Regions from separate parts of the Homo sapiens genome. Here region 2 is linked to region 1. The links come from fine-mapping of genetic effects on gene expression. Tissue or cell type: whole blood. Region 1 holds a variant in brackets; the other region holds the start of a gene. All regions are shown on one strand. Distances are between the middles of the regions.

Evidence for each region. PIP is the estimated chance that this variant, and not a neighbour inherited with it, causes the effect.
Region 2: it holds the start of TRIP10, and the variant in region 1 is fine-mapped to the expression of TRIP10 in whole blood (INTERVAL, PIP 0.91).

The regions. Positions count from the first base shown.
Region 1 is chr19:6,797,758-6,805,757 of GRCh38, forward strand. The region is part of intron 1 of VAV1 (vav guanine nucleotide exchange factor 1); the gene reads left to right. Among named protein-coding and RNA genes, the nearest start is that of VAV1, 29 kb to the left of the region's middle. RefSeq lists enhancers at 3,955-4,475, 4,266-4,335, 5,218-5,437. The variant C/T (reference allele first, on the strand shown) is at 4,848.
Region 2 is chr19:6,735,761-6,743,890 of GRCh38, forward strand. It overlaps TRIP10 (thyroid hormone receptor interactor 10), which reads left to right and starts at 3,920. Exons shown (of 15, transcript NM_001288962.2): 1 at 3,920-4,025; 2 at 5,250-5,365; 3 at 5,465-5,521; 4 at 7,207-7,354; 5 at 7,434-7,496; 6 at 7,734-7,838; 7 at 7,948-8,076. The coding sequence starts at 4,002. GPR108 (G protein-coupled receptor 108) reads right to left here and starts at 1,820. Exons shown (of 18, transcript NM_001080452.2): 1 at 1,697-1,820; 2 at 832-951; 3 at 148-198. The coding sequence starts at 1,816. It overlaps MIR6791 (microRNA 6791), which reads right to left and starts at 1,018; the gene lies at 952-1,018. RefSeq lists enhancers at 1-171, 695-844, 2,285-2,344, 2,477-3,245, 3,325-3,414 and 3 more and silencers at 635-789, 1,155-1,316, 1,465-1,634, 1,735-1,794, 3,765-4,044 and 1 more.

The DNA of each region.
Region 1 (8,000 bases):
AAAAAGAGTAGGAGCAAAAATATGACTAAGACTGTATTTTGCATTATTGACCAATGATGGTTTACATTATTTCCTTATTTTCCACCCCATCCTCCCCCACCCACTCCCTAAGCTGATAGTCATCCTATGCACCTAGTTTTAGGGGAAAGACACAGCAGGGCAGCCAGTATCCTGCTGACTTAAAAAAAAAAAAACCAGCTATATTGACATACAGTAAATTACATATTTAAAATACATTGGTGGGGCGCGGTGGCTCACGCTGTAATCCCAGCACTTTGGGAGGCCGAGGTGGGCAAATCACTTGAGGCCAGGAGTTCAAGACCAGCCTAGCCAACATGGTGAGACCCTGTCTGTACTAAAAATACAGAAATTAGCCAGGCATGGTGGCACGCACCTATAATCCCAGCTACTCAGGAGGTGGAGGCAGGAGAATCGCTTGAACCTGGGAGGCGGAGGTTGCAGTGAGCGGAGATCGCATCATTGCACTCCAGCCTGGGCAACAGAGTGAGACTCTGTCTCAAAAAAAAATATATGATTTGGTAAACAATTTTTTCTTTAATTTCTAGATTTGTTTTCAGAAACGGTCTTGGCAGGGCATGGTGCCTGAAGCCTGTAATCTCGCCCCTTTGGGAAGCTGGTGTGGGAGGATTGCTTGAGTTTAGGAGATCGAGATCAGCCTGGGCAACATGGTGAGACCAGCCTCATCTCTAATAAATAATAAATAAATAAATAAATAAATAAAATAATTAGCTGGTCATAGTGGCATGTGCCTGTAGTCCCAGCTACTTGGGAGGCTGAGATGGGAGGATCATTTGAACCCAGGAAGTCGAGGCTGCAGTGAGCCAGGATTGCACCACTGCACTCCAGTCTGGGTGACAGAGTGAGACCCTGTTTCTCCCCTTCCCCCCCCCACCCAAAAGAAGGGGGAAAAAAGAAAGAATCAGGGTCTCCCTATGTTGCCCAGACTGGCCTTGAACTCCTGGACTCAAGCGATCCTCCTACCCTAGCCTCCTGAGTAGCTGGGATTACAGGTGTGTGCCACTGAACCTGGCCTGATTTGATAAATTTTGACATATGTGTGCAACTATGAACCCAGCCTTGAAATCAATGGATCATATCCATTGCCCCTCAAAGTTTCCTCCATCCCACCCCTCCCTGCCTCCCCCTCCTCCCACCTCTCATTCCCTCGTACCTCCTGATTTGCTGTTAGTCACTGTCGATTAGTTTGTATTTCCTGGAGTTTTATGTAAGTGGAATGGTACCATCTGTGGTCTTCTGTGACTGGCTGCTTTCCCTGAGCATGATGTCCTGGTTCATCCATGTTGTTGTATGTATCAGTGTACCATTCTGTTGTACGGATGCACCCCAGTTTGTTTATCCATTCATCCCTTGATGGAGGTTTTTTTGTTTGTTTCGCTTTGTTTTTTTGAGATGGAGTCTCGCTCTGTCGCCCAGGCTGGAGTGCAGTGGCGCAATCTCGGCTCACTGCAACCTCCGCCTCCCAGGTTCAAGCGATTCTTCTGCCTCAGCCTCTCGAACAGCTGGGACTACAGGTGTGCGCCACCACGCCTGGCTAATTTTTTTGTATTTTTAGTAAAGACAGGGTTTCACCATGTTGACCAGGCTGGTCTCGAACTCCTGACCTCATAATCTGCCCACCTCGGCCTCCCAAAGTGCTGGGATTACAGGCGTGAGCCACCATGCCCGGCCTATACTTTAAGTTCTGGGATACATGTGCAGAACGTGCAGGTTTGTTACATAGGTATACACGTGCCATGGTGGTTTGCTGCATCCATCAACCCATCATCTACATTAGGTATTTCTCCGAATGCTATCCCTCTCCTAACCCCCAGCCCCCGACAGGCCCCAGTGTGTGATGTTCCCCTTGGTTGAGGTTTGAATTACTGATGGCACTTTTGGCTATCATGAATCAAGTTGCTAGCTGGATATGGTGGCACATGCCTGTAGTCCTAACTCTTTGGAAGGCTGAGGCAGGAGGATTGCTTGAGCCCAGGAATTTGAGACTGCAGTGAGCTGTGATTGGGCCAGGCTGCACTCCAGCCTGGGTGACAGACTGAGACTGTCTCAAAAAAAAAAAAAAAAAAAAAAGGAAAGAAAAGAAAACAGAATCAAGCTGCTATGAACATTCTGTACAAGTCTTTGTATGGACATGTGCTTTCATTTCTCTTGAGTAAATGCCTGGTAATGGAATATATCGTATGATAGGTGCATGCTTAATGTTTTAAGAAAACTTACCAGGCCAGTCACGGCGGCTCATGCCTGTCATTCCAGCACTTTGGGGAACTGAGGCGGGAGGATTGCTGGAGCCTAGGAGTTTGAGACCAACCTGACCGACATAGTGAGGCTCTGTTTCTTAATTTTTTTTTTTAATAAGAAGAAAATGTACCAACTTTTCTTCCTTTGTGCTGGAATTGCAAGGTAAAAAAATAATAGTAATAACAAGGAAAACGTACCAACTTTTCCAAAGTGGATCTGCCATGTGATGTTCCTGCCAGCTGCTCAGCATGCTTCTCTTCTTTGCTTCACTATCTGTCTCATTTTTTTTTTTTGAGATGGGGTCTTGCTCTGTTGCCCAGGCTGGAGTGCAGTGGCATGATCTCGGCTCACTGCAACCTCTGCCTCCTGGGTTCAAGCGATTCTCCTTCCTCTGCTTTCCAAGTAGCTGGGACTACAGGCGTGTTCCACCACACCCAGCTAATTTTGTATTTTTAGCAGAGACAGGTTTCACTATATGTTGGCCAGGCGCGTCTCAAACTCCTGACCTCAAGTGATCAACCCACCTCAGCGTCCCAAAGTGCTGGGATTACAGGCATGAGCCACCACACCCAGCTTCTTTTTTTTGTTTTGTTTTGTTTTTTGTTTTTTTGAGACATCCTCGGTCTGTTGCCCAGGCTGTGCAGTGGCGTGATCTCGGCTCACTGCCACCTCCGCCTCCTGGGTTCAAGCGATTCTCCTGCCTCAGCCTCCAGAGTAGCTGGGATTACAGGCGCCTGTCACCACGCCTGGCAAATTTTTGTGTGTGTGTGTGTGTGCAGTCGGGGTTTCACCATGTTGCCCAGGCTGGTCTTGAACCCCTGACCTCAAGTGATCCGCCCGCCTCAGCCTCCCAAAGTGCTGGGATTACAGGCGTGAGCCACCGCACCCAGCCGCTCACCATCTCTTTGTCGCCTGCATGGCACCATTCTCTCCTGTACCACCCCAAAGCCTTACCAGGTGCCTCCTGCATTTAACCAGGTCCCATAGCTCTCTGTGCTTCCCGGCACACCCTCTCACCACCCTCATCATCAATTATTCACCTTGCTGACTGCTTAGTGTTTGTCTCCTGGCTGGATTACATAAGCCCTGTAAGGGCAGAGCTCTGTTTGTCTTGATCACCATTAGGTTCTGGTGCTTGGCATACAGTAGGCATTCCACACATGCTTGCTGAATTAATGCATGACCGGGTCTGGGGTGCTGGGTTTCACACCAGGCTCTACCGCAAACATTGGGTCAAGTATTTTCATTCCCGACGTACAGATGAGTCAATTGAATCAACGGAAAGCAAAATGATCCCATCCAAGCTCCCTCAACTTGCCGGGCTGGTCTGGGAGTCGAACCAGATCTGCCTGACCCTCCCACCGGTGCTGAAAAGTGGAGTGTGTGCTGGGGTGGTAGGGGATGGGGCAGAAGAGAGACGGGCTTCCTCACAGAAGGGTTTGAGGGCTAGGATGAGGCGTGCACACTCTGCACCCCTGCTTCGGAGCTTTGAAAGGGTGCACAGCACACCCGCCCTCTCTGGGAACCCTCGGGAGCTTGAGGTTGCCTGATGAAGGGGCTGATGGGTTGAACGCAAAGGGCCCCTCCACCCACCCTTTTTTCTATCTCCCCAACCAAGCCCTGGTAACAGGCATTTCCGGTTTCCGGCCGGCTCCCTGGTGCTGGGGTGGGGGTGGGGAGTTGATTGCTGCCGTCGTGCTTGGCTCTGGGTCCCCTTCTCCCAGACCCCAGAGGCCTCTGTCCCTGCACACTGCTTCCCCGAAGGAGCGTGGAAAGCCAGCCGACCTTTCTGGCTCTTTCTTCATCTTGGGCAGGGGTTTTGTTGATGGGAGGCTGGCTGGCAAATGGGGAAGAATGAACCTCAGGGTTCACCGCAGTGCGCCTGGGTGCTGATTTGCATATGGGCACGATGCCAGCACAGTGGGTGCCCGCCTCTTCCTGGAGGAAGGAAGAGGGGCACTGAGGGGGGTTGCCCCCAGCAGGGAGGAACCGTCCTCATAATGCCTCTCCTACGTTTGTTTAAAGGACCATCATTCTCAGCAAACTATAGCAAGGACAAAAAACCAAACACCGCATGTTCTCACTTATAGGTGGGAATTGAACAATGAGAACACATGGGCACAGGAAGGGGAACATCACACACAGGGGACTGTTGTGGGGTCGGGGAAGTGGGGAGGGATAACATTAGGAGATATACCTAATGCTAAATGAGGAGTTAATGGGTGCAGCACACCAACATGACACATGTATACATATGTAACAAACCTGCACGTTGTGCACATGTACCCTAAAATTTAAAGTATAATAATAATAAAATTAAAAAAAATAAAGGACCTCCTGTCCTTTGCCACTTTCTCACACTCTTCAGGCGACCAGGAAGTCCTTTCTGGTGGTCTAACTGCAGTCACTGCTGCTGTCTGATGGAGCCCCTTTCTTTAGCTGGCCCCACCGCAGCCCGGAGAGGGGATGAATCATGCCCCCTTTCCCCTCTTTGAGGCATCACATGACTGGAAGGAAGCTGTCTCCGGGTTCAGCTGATCTCCCTGAGGTCAGGAGGGAACTTCCTCCCT[C/T]GAGCCACAGACACAGCCATCTGCTCTATTGTCTCTGGTGATCTGCCTGCCCATGAGCGCCCTCATTATGCCACTCTCTAAGAGGCACCAGGAGCAGCTTAGTGTGGTTCAAAGAGGCAGTGTTGTACAGAGGTTAGAGGCACAGACTTTGGGATCCAGTGCTGGTATCTGGTTCTCCATTCCTATCTGTGTGGTCCGGGATGGGCAGTATCCCCTCTCTGAGCCTCAGTTGTTTCCTCTGTCAAAGGGAGATTTATTCATTCGACAGATTTTATTGAGCATCTACTATGTGTCAGACATGGTACTAGGTATTGAGGTCCTCTATTTACCCAAAGGAGTTGAACATTTATGTCCACACAAAAACTTACACTCAAGTCTTTGTAGCGGCTTTATTCATGATTGCTGAAACTGGGAGGCAACAAATTGTCCTTCGGTAGATGAATGCGATGTAGGGCAAGGCAAGCCCTAAATTGGGGCTCAGCCTGGGACGGTTCTTTGTTTTGCCCAGGAAAGAATTCCAGGGCGAGCTGGAGGTGTTAGACAGTAGCTTTTACTGAAGTGAAAGTGCATAGCGGCAGTTGCAGAAGTCCTGCTCCTCGCAGAGCAGGGCTACCCCACAGGCTGTGAGCCCGGAGTAATCAGGGTTGCAGTCATCTTTGTACCCACTTTAATTATATGCAAATTAAAGGGCAGATTATGCAAATTTCTAGGAAAAGGGTGGTAACTTCTGGGTTGTCGGGTCATTGCCTTGGGAAAGGAGTAGTAGCTGCTGGTGTTACCATCACAATGGCAAACTGCCATGGCACACTGGTGGGCATGTCTTATGGAAAGGTGCTTCTGCTCCAGCCCTGTTTTAGCTAGTCCTCAATTTGGTCCGTTGTCTGAGCCCCACCTCCAGAGTCAAGTTCCACCTACTTCCTCGTATGGATAAATAAGCTGTGGTGCATCCAGACAATGGAATATTATTATTATTATTAGAGATGGACTTTTGCCCTTGTTGTCCAGGCTAGAGTGCAATGGTGTGGTCTCGGCTCACTGCAACCTCTGCTTCCCAGGTCCAAGCTGTTCTCCTGCCTCAGCCTCCTGAGTAGCTGGGTTTACTGGCACCTGCCACCACACCTGGCTAATTTTTGTATTTTTAGTAGAGATGGGATTTCACCATGTTGGCCAGGCTGGCCTCAAACTCCTGACCTCAGGTGATCCAGCCACGTCGGCCTCCCAAAGTGCTGAGATTACAGGTGTGAGCCACTGCTCCCAGCGCAGACAATGGAATATTATTCAGCACTGAAGAGAGATGAGATGAGCTCTCAAGCCATGAAGAGACACGCAGGAACCCCAAATGCATATTACTAAGTGAAAGAAGCCAGTCCCAAAAGGCTACATACTATATGATACCAGCTATGTGATGTTTCAGAAAAGGCAAAACTGTAGAAGCAGTAAAAAGATCAGTAGTTGTCAGAGGTTAGTGGAAAGGGGGTATGGATAGGCAGAGCATGGAAGCTTTCCACGGCAGTGAAAATACTCTCTATGACACTATAATAGTGGATACCCATCATCATACATGTGTCCAAATCCAGAGAATGTGACGCACGGCAGGCAAGCCCCAAAGTGGGGCTTAGCCTGTGAGGCTTCTTGGTTTCACCCAAGAAGCCTCACAGGCTAAGGAAAGAATTCAAGGGTGATTCCAGTGGTAGGGTAGACGAAAACAGCTTTATTGCCGTGGCAGTGTTACAGCTCCATGACTGCTCTTGCAGGGCTACCCCACAGGCTGAGAGTAGCAGCTCAGGGCAGTTTGGCGGTCCTATTTATATTTATTTATTTATTTATTTAGAGACAGAGTCTTGCTCTGTCGCCCAGGCTGGAGTGCAGTAGTGCAATCTCAGCTCATTGCAACCTCTGCCTCCCAGGTTCAAGCAATTCTCCTGCCTCACCCTTCTGAGTAGCTGGGATTACAGGCGCGTGCCACCACGCCTGACTAACTTTTGTATTTTTAGTAGAGATGAGGTTTCGCCATGTTGGCCAGGCTGGTCTCAAATTTCCGACCTCAGGTGTTCTGCCTGCCTTGGCCTCCCAAAGTGCTGGGATTACAGGCATGAACCACTGTGCCCTTCCCATACCTCCTTTTTTTTTTTTTTTTGAGACGGAGTCTTGCTCTGTCGCACAGGCTGGAGTGCAGTGGCGCAATCTTGGCTCACTGCAAGCTCTGCCTCCCACGTTCACGCCATTCTCCTGCTTCAGCCTCCCAAGTAGCTGGGACTACAGGCGCCCGCCACCATGCCCGGCTAATTTTTTGTATTTTTAGTAGAGATGAGTTTTCACCATGTTAGCCAGGATGGTCTCGATTGCCTGACCTTCCTGAGGCGTGAACCACCCGCCTCAGCCTCCCTAAGTGCTGGGATTACAGGTGTGAGCCACCGCCCCCCGGCCCATACCTCCTTTTAATTACATGTAGAGTAAGGGGCAGTTTATGCAGAAATTTCCAGGGAAGGGGTAGTAACTTTTGGGTGATCAGGTAATTGCCATGAAAAGCGGTGGTAAGGCCGGGCGCAGCGGTTCATGCCTGTAATCCCAGCACTTTGGGAGGCCGAGGCGGATGGATCACCTACAGTCAGGAGTTCGAGACCAGCCTGGCCAACATGGTGAAACCCCGTCTCTACTAAAAATACAAAAATTAGCTGGGTATGGTGGCACACACCTGTGATCCCAGCTACTCAGGAGGCTGAGGCAGGAGCATCGCTTGAACCCGGGAGGTGGAGGTTGCAGCGAGTTGAGATCATAATACTGCACTCTAGCCTGGGCCACAGAGCAAGACTCCATCTCAAACAAAACAAAACAAAACAAAAACAAAGAAAATAGACCAGTTGTGGTGGCTCACATCTGTAATCCCAGGACCTTAGGAGGCTGAGGCAGGAGGATCACTTGAGCCCAGGGGTTCGAGACCAGCCTGGGCAACATAGTGAGACCCTCATTTCTACAGATACACACACACACACACACACACACACACACATACACGCACACACACATGAGTTGGGGGGATGGTTTCAGGATGAATCAACCACATTACATTTATTGTTCACTTTATTTCTATTATTATTACATTGTAATATATAATGAAATAATTATACAGCTCACACATATGTGTATATATAT
Region 2 (8,130 bases), 62 kb before region 1:
ACCCTGTCTCCCTCCCTGTCCACCCACGGGATCTTCCTGCTCCTGCCTCTGACAAAGAACAGGGGCCCTTGGGTTACAGATGCAGAGGACAGACCCTACCCCCTCCCTCCAGCCCCTTCTCCCGTCTTCCCCATGCCCTCCACTCACTGAATAGGAGCGAACTCTGCCAGACCGAACCCGGCTGAGACTGAACCCCACCTGGTGGGTGGAAAAAAAAAGGGGAGGGTGTGAGGGACAGTAGAGACCTCCCAGCTATCCCTTTCAGTAGCAATAGAAACCTAACCTCACATTTACTGAACACCTAACATGTGCTAGATCCCACACGCTCTTTTTCTTTTTTAGAGTTGGGGTGGTGGGTGGACCTCATTCTGTTTCTCAAGCTGGAATACAGTGGCAGGATCATAGCTCACTACAGCCTCGAACTCCCAGGTTCAAACGATCCTCTCACCTCGGCCTCCCGACTGGCTGGGACTACAGGCACACCTCACCACGCCCGGCTAATTTTAAAAACTTTTTGTAGAGACGGGGTTCTCACTATGTTGCCCAGGCTGGTCTTGAACTCCTGGCCTCAGGCAATCCTCCCACCTTGGCCTCCCAAAGTGCTAGGACTACAAAGCCTGAGCCACCGCGCCCCGCCTGTCCCCCAAGTCTTAAGAAAAGTGCCTAGCACATCCTGTGTAAGACATCATTACTCCCAGGTACAGATGACGAAACAGGCTCAGAGAGATGACGGGACTTGTACAAGATCACATGGGTAGCGGCAGAGCTGGGAACCCAGAACCGGGGGATTGCACCGTGCTCTCCTCCAGCAAACTCCTCAAGGTCCCTCACCAGCAGGGACTTCTCTTCTGCCTCCCGGAGGCCCAGCCGCAGGACGCTCAACTCCACCTCCAGAGAGCCATTGGTGTAGAAACCGAAGCTGTTCAGCTGGATGTCCGCTCGCTTCTCCCCCTGCCGGAGACCAAGGAGGCAGAGGCAGTTCAGACCTCTTTCCGCCTGCCCAGCCCCAGGGGTCTGGCACGAGGACCTCCAGAAGGGCCTCCTGGTACCCCTCTATTTAGGACAGGCCCAGAGGATGACAAGAGAAAGTTGAGAGGGACTTCCTCCCTGCAGGGGAAGGGTGGTCCTGCATTCTCCGACCTCTGTTCTGAGAACCCAGGAACAGAGATCCTGCGGCACCTGGAAGTCTCCCCACTGGGGTGAGCACCGCCCGGAGAACAGTTATTCACCTCGGCGTGCCTGACCTTCACCTTCCCGAAGAACTTTTACATTCCAGTTGAGCTCCCAGCAATATTTCAACAGAACCCCCCAAATCCCATTAAGTGCCCAGAGGACCCCACTCTATAGCCCCCCAGGACCCCGCTGTGCGGCTCCAGGGTCTCTAGCGCCCCAAAAGTGATTCCAAGAATTTAAAGGACTAAGACCCAGTTGGGGGGAAGGGGGGTGTAGTCCCCAAGAGATGGAGCCTCGCCCCCGAAGGGAGGGGGCCGACCCCAGCGAGGCGGACCCGGCAACTCCATCCGGAGGACCGAAGGGGATCCCGGGACGAGACCACTCCGGGCCCGGAAACGGGGGGCGCCGGACCACTCCACCGCCTCGGGGACGGGGGAGGGCGGACGAGACCACTCCAAGCCAGGGGGCTTCTCCGAGACAAAGTTGCGCCACCGACCCCAGACCCTCGCGCGGCGGGCCTCACCGTCAGCGCCAGCTGGTGGATGCGCCCGGAGCAGCCACCCAGCAGCAGCACCAGAAGTAGCCGCTGCCCCCACTCCGCGGGGCTCCCGCGGCCGAGCCCCCTCCTCTCGCTCACTGCCATCTCTGGAGCCACCTCCTCCCCGACTCCGCCTCTGGCGCCCAAGCCCGCCCACCGATGAGCCAATCGCCGCACGGCGGGGCCCGGCCTTTCGGAGTTTCCAGTCCGCCAACCAATCAGCAATTGCCTCTCCGCAAGCCCGCCTGCTTGCGTCACCGACGGACAGCACCGGTTCCGAATGGGAGAGCCGATAACGCTTAACCCCCAGCTCACTCTCACCAATCGCTATAAAGATTGTCCGGATGTGATTTAATGAGCAGTTTATCTAACCAATTGTCATGGATCTGATATCCGGCCCTTAAAGCGGAATTTCTCCACCCACTCTTAACTGTCCGGGACTACATTACCCAGAATGCAGCGGGAGCAGACAAGGGCCACAAAGCATTAAATAAACTACCTTTCCCAGTATCCCCAAGGACGGACTTCCTCTTCTTGAGCCAGGGATGTGGCTCCCAGCCAGAGCTGAGGCTTTTGGTAAACACACGCATCTGTTCAGGCCTGACCTGTTTTCCTAATCTTCCTGGTCCACAGAGAGGCCTAAAGCTGGCCTCAGGTTAAAGTTTGACCCTAGGATGACCTATGACCCCAGGCTGAGACCCCAGCCTTAGGCTAAGCCTTTTATTCCAGAGTGAGGCAATTGGAGCCCCACCCCCAGATTCCAGGCTAGACCGGACTCCGGGCTGAACTCTGACCCCAGGTGAACTCCCTCTCTGCAAGTTGAGTCCTAACTTCAGCCTGAAACTCTGACACCCCCTCGTCCCCCACACCACACACTGAGGCTTAATCTCTGGTTTAGGCCACCGATCTGGACTAGCCCTGACTCCAGATTGGACCTGACCCCTTACCGGGTTGCTAATCCTTCTGGTTAAGCCTCTGGCCTCTATCCCCTATCCCCACGGTGGTGCTGACCTGGACTGAACCCCAATTCCAGTTTGAGTCTCTGAGCAGAGGTGAACTCAGAACTTTGCTAGGCTGAGCCCCCATTTGAGACTAGCCACAGAACTCACTGGGTTCAATTGCCCAACTGCAATCAGACATTTTCTAGCTCAGAAGCCACCAGCAGGTGGGGCCAGGTCTCAGCAGAGACATCAGTCCCAGTGTGGGCTCCCAAGGCTCTCCTCCTGGGCTCAGCTGTATCTCTCTGTTCTGGGAGCCTGGGTGCTCTGTGTAAGGGGAACGTATACCCAAGGGCCCCCCTGCAAGACGCCCAGCCTTGTCTGAGGCTGCAGAGAAAGCGCCAAAGCCCGGAGAGAATGGGAGTGGGAATCCCCAGTGCCTCCTCTCCTCTTTCATTCCAGCACCTCAAAGGGATTTACAAGGTGTGAACAGACTTTTATGGGAGAGGTGACAGACTTCCCTTCTCCAGGGCCCAGATGGCCCAGATGTCTGGGGGAGGGGCGGAGTCGGAATCTCAGGGGCAGTACTGAGAATGAAACCAGGTTAAACTGGAAAATGGGCAGATGCAGGCGCGAACTGGAAGGCAGCTGGGGAAAGGCCTGGGCCTGGCGCCCCAAGGACGGCCTGTCTTCAGTTTCCCAGCGGAGACTCTGGGGGAGGGAAGGCAGGATGCGGTGCGGGAGTTAATGGACCTGGCCTTGGCGAAGGCGCGTCCTGGGTTGGATCGAAACCCTCTCATCCGCCCTGTGGCCGGAGGGACCAGACCATTAGTGGGACGAACCTAGACGCCTGGAGCCGGGCCGGCTCGCAAGAACGGGGTGACCTCAGGTTGCCCCTGCAATGGGGTTGAGGAAGGACTTCTTGAGTTTGGGGTTTTAGTGTCTTGGCCCTTTAAGGAATAATTGCGGGGAAAGGGGAAAAGGAGATGGGAAGAACCGTTTGGAGCGGGGAAGGAAGATGAGAGGACGAGAGGGACCCCGGGGATTTGGAAAAAATGGGTGGGGGTTCTTTAAGGGGTCGGTCCAGCGGCGTCGAGTGGCAACGTTGCTTTAAAAGGGGGCGGAGCGTCCGTTGGGCCCCGCCCCCGAATCGCAGTGCTTGGGCTCCGCGCGGGTGGGGGCGTGGCAGAGCGTGCAGGGGGGCGGGGAAGAGTCTGGGGTGGGCGGGGCCGGGCGGGGCGGGGCGGGGCCAGGCGCACCGCCCTCGGCTGAGTCTCCCCGGGGAGGGCGGCGGGCGGCGGGCGGCGGGGACCGGGTGCGGTGGTGGCTGCGGCGGCGGCGGCGGGAGCAGCATGGATTGGGGCACTGAGCTGTGGGTAAGTCCAATCGGCCCGCCTCTAAGTTCCCCTTTGCTGGGGTCCAGGCACCCCCCTTTTGTCCCCAATGTATCTTAGAGGGGGCTCCGCGCCTTTCCCTTCCACCGACCCCTGGGTCCCCGCCCTCCACCCTCCGCTCTCTCTCGAAGTTTATCTGGGAGTCTCAGCACGCTCAGGGGCGAAGGGCGACTTTGCCGGACCGGAGTGGGGAAACTGAGGCACAGGGTTGCGAATGAGGCGGGCAGAAGGAATCCTGGGGCCAGGCCGGGGCGGCTGAGAGAGGTCACCTATTTTGGGCGCCCTGGCCGGGCAGGCGGCTTATCTTACGGCCCCTGGGTCCCTGCCCGTCGTCCGCCTGTCCGGCTAGGAGGGGGGAGGGGACCCTCTGGTCACCCTCATCCCCACCCACGTGGGACCTAGAAGTCCTGACCGCCCTTTCCCTCGCCTTTAATCAACACCTAGGGGCTGGGGACGCTCATGGAGGGGAAGGGGGATGCTAAGCTCGGCCTGATCCCCCTCCCTGGCTTCCCCCTGCTCACCCCAGGCCCAGGGCGGGACCGCCCCCTGGTCGCCTATAACCTCAGCCCTGGAAGCCCCAGAAATTTCCCCCTATCCTAGCCGGACCTCTGACCCCTCCCCTTGCTGGGGGCGGTGGAATCCCTGAGTTCTTAGTGCAGCGGGGGTAACCAGACTGCCACCCCCTCCTCCAATTCTGCGATTTCTTTTGGATGTGTAGTGGGGTCAGTGGGGTAAATTGAGTCACCCATCGGGGGATCCCTGGAAGCAGGGAGATTCAGGGAACCTGGTGCCTGCCCCCTGGCCACTCAGGGGCCCCCAGTCTGCCAGGAACCCTGCCCCTCTGGCCTTGACTCACGCCGGGCCGGCCGGATTTTCCGGAATCCGGGGGGATTAGGGGAGCCCGAGCTGGGGGAGTGGCCCTGTCCCCTTCCACGCCCCTCTTGGCGGTCCTATGTCGGAGACCTCCATCTCCCGGCCGGGGTGGCTGGGGCCTGGGCGCTGTTCTCCGGCCCTTCCCGGGAAGGGGAGGGGGTTCCCGCCAGTTTCCTGCCTCCCCCCGCGCCACGCCGGGGCGGCGCCGGGAAGCCACTCCTTCTAGGAGCGCAGAGCCTTGGCCCTCCCTGGGAGTCTGGTCGGCGGGCTGTGGGGTCCCAAAATCGTGACCCCGGCCCCTCTCCCCTCCTCCCCCACCATGTCCCATGTCAGGATCAGTTCGAGGTGCTCGAGCGCCACACGCAGTGGGGGCTGGACCTGTTGGACAGATATGTAAAGTTCGTGAAAGAACGCACCGAAGTGGAACAGGCTTACGCCAAACAACTGCGGTGAGACCCTGGGGTGGACGCTACGGAGGACGCGCCTGGGGCGACGGGGAGCGGTGGGAGGGCTGCGGGCTCAGCCCTCCTACCTCTGTCTCCCCTTAGGAGCCTGGTGAAAAAATATCTGCCCAAGAGACCTGCCAAGGATGATCCTGAGTCCAAGTAAGGTTGGAGAGGGGCTGCAGGGCTAGATTTGTGGGGAAAGGCGGTGCTTGGGTCTCACTTCCCCTCCCTCAGCTGGGACACCCCACCGCTCCTCTCACTTCCCCTTCTAGAGGTGAGAGCATGGATGCAAGATGCGGGATTATCTGGCTTGGAATCCTGAGTCCACTACTATGTAGAGAAATTGACTTGGGCTTGTGACTCAGGTTTTCTGCCACTATTTTCCTTAACTGTTAAATACAGAGGCCCCAGCAGTTACAAAACCAGTAACTTTGGGCAGATGACTTAAAGTTTTGCGCCTCTGTTTTCCTCATCTGTGAAATGGAATGATGACGATTCCTCCAGCTTTGTAGGGCTTTCATGAACACGAGCTGAGTGAATGTGTTTAAACAGTGTGCAGTCCATATCAAACGCCGTAAGGAGCATTTGACTTGGAATTGAGTCCCCAATTCCAAAATCCAAAAAAGCCCTGGAAATCAAGTTGTTTTGGTCACTTGTTTGGCAGCAATCTCTGACCTGAACTTTTTGTTAATTGTAGTTGTTTTGTTTTGTTTTTGACAGAGTTTCACTCTGTCCCCCAGGCTGGAGTGCAGTGGCGCCATCTCAGCTCACTGCAACTTCCGCCTCCCAGGTTCAAGCGATTCTCCTGCCTCAGCCTCCCTAGTAGCTGGGATTACAGTCACCTGCCACCATGCCCAGCTAATTTTTATATTTTTAGTAGAGACAGGGTTTCACCATGTTAGCCAGGCTGGTAATTGTAGTTTTGACTTTTATCCCACTTAGTGTGAATGTTAACACCTCTCATTGTAAAATTAAAAAAAAAAATAGGGTTGGGCACAGTGGCTCACACCTGTAATCCCACACATTGGGAGGGTGCGCAGGTGGATCACTTGAGGTCAGGAGTTCGAGAGCAGCCTGGTCAACATGGTGAAACCTTGTCTCTTCTAAAAATACAAAAATTAGCCAGGCGTTGTGGTGCGCGCCTGTAATCCCAGCTACTCAGGAGGCTGAGGCATGAGAATCGCTTGAACCCGGGAGGCGGAGGTTGCAGTGAGCCAAGATCGCACCACTGCACTCCAGCCTGGGCGACAGAGTGAGACTCTGTCTCCAAAACAAATAGATACGGTGTTTGATTACAAAATGATGTCCCCAACCCCACTAAGATGATGCAGAAAAGATGGTATAAGCTTTGTACACCATCTTTAAAAACTGGAAAATTCTGTGTTCCAATATACATTCGAGGTCCAGTGCGGTGGCTCACACCTGTACTCCCAGCACTTTGGGAGGGTGAGGCGGGAAGATGCGGAGTTCGGGGGGATTGGAGTTTGAGACCTCATCTGGAAAAAAAAAATTAGCCAGGTGTGGTGGCGTGTGCCTGTGGTCCCAGCTATTTGGGAGCCTGAGGTGGGAGGATCACTTGAGCCCAGGAGTTTGAGGCTGCAGTGAGACGCAATCATGCCGCTGCACTGCAGCCTGGGTGACAGCAAGACCCTGTCTCAAAAAAAAAAAAAAAAAAAATCTACTCAAGGGTTGGGGTTAAGGAATATGGACCAGAATTTGTCATCGCTTCAGGGATTACATTCTTGGGGCTTAACCCTTTTCCACCTGGAGGTGCGTCCTGGGGCATCAGCCTGCTCGGGAGGAGGGGCCTGACTCCCTGTTCCCCGATTCTCATCCAACCCCAGATTCAGCCAGCAACAGTCCTTCGTACAGATTCTCCAGGAGGTGAATGACTTTGCAGGCCAGCGGGAGCTGGTGGCTGAGAACCTCAGTGTCCGTGTATGTCTTGAGCTGACCAAGTACTCACAAGAGATGAAACAGGAGAGGAAGATGGTGAGGAGCCCCCCGATTCAGGTTTTACAAAGGGCTTCTGCTGGAACCCTGGCGAGCCTTATCACTCTTCTTTCTGTAGCACTTCCAAGAAGGGCGGCGGGCCCAGCAGCAGCTGGAAAATGGCTTTAAACAGCTGGAGAATGTGAGTTTGCAGAGGTAGCAGTGACTGTGGCCCGGAGGCATGGGGGCAGGGTTGCGGATCCGGAGTCAGGGAGCTGCCCTCTTTGTCAGACCTGGACCTTCCCTCCCCCATAGGCTTCCAGTACTCCCTTGACCCCTACTTACTGGATGACATCCCAATAATCCCTGAAACCTTGGTTTCCCACCCTGCTGTCTTTGGGATGGTGGCTCCCTCACTCCGGTTCTGTCCCCTACACAGAGTAAGCGTAAATTTGAGCGGGACTGCCGGGAGGCAGAGAAGGCAGCCCAGACTGCTGAACGGCTAGACCAGGATATCAACGCCACCAAGGCTGATGTGGAGAAGGTGTGTGTGGCGGGGGCGGGGGGGGGGTGCGGGGTCTGGGACAAGCTTGGGGAGTCCGAGTGGGACGTGATCGGAACCTGGCAGTACCTTCCACCTCTGCATTCTTCAGGCCAAGCAGCAAGCCCACCTTCGGAGTCACATGGCCGAAGAAAGCAAAAACGAATATGCGGCTCAACTGCAGCGCTTCAACCGAGACCAAGCCCACTTCTATTTTTCACAGATGCCCCAGATATTCGATGTGAGTGCTCCCAGTTCTCAGACCTACCTTCCCGAAAGCCTCCAAATGTTAGCC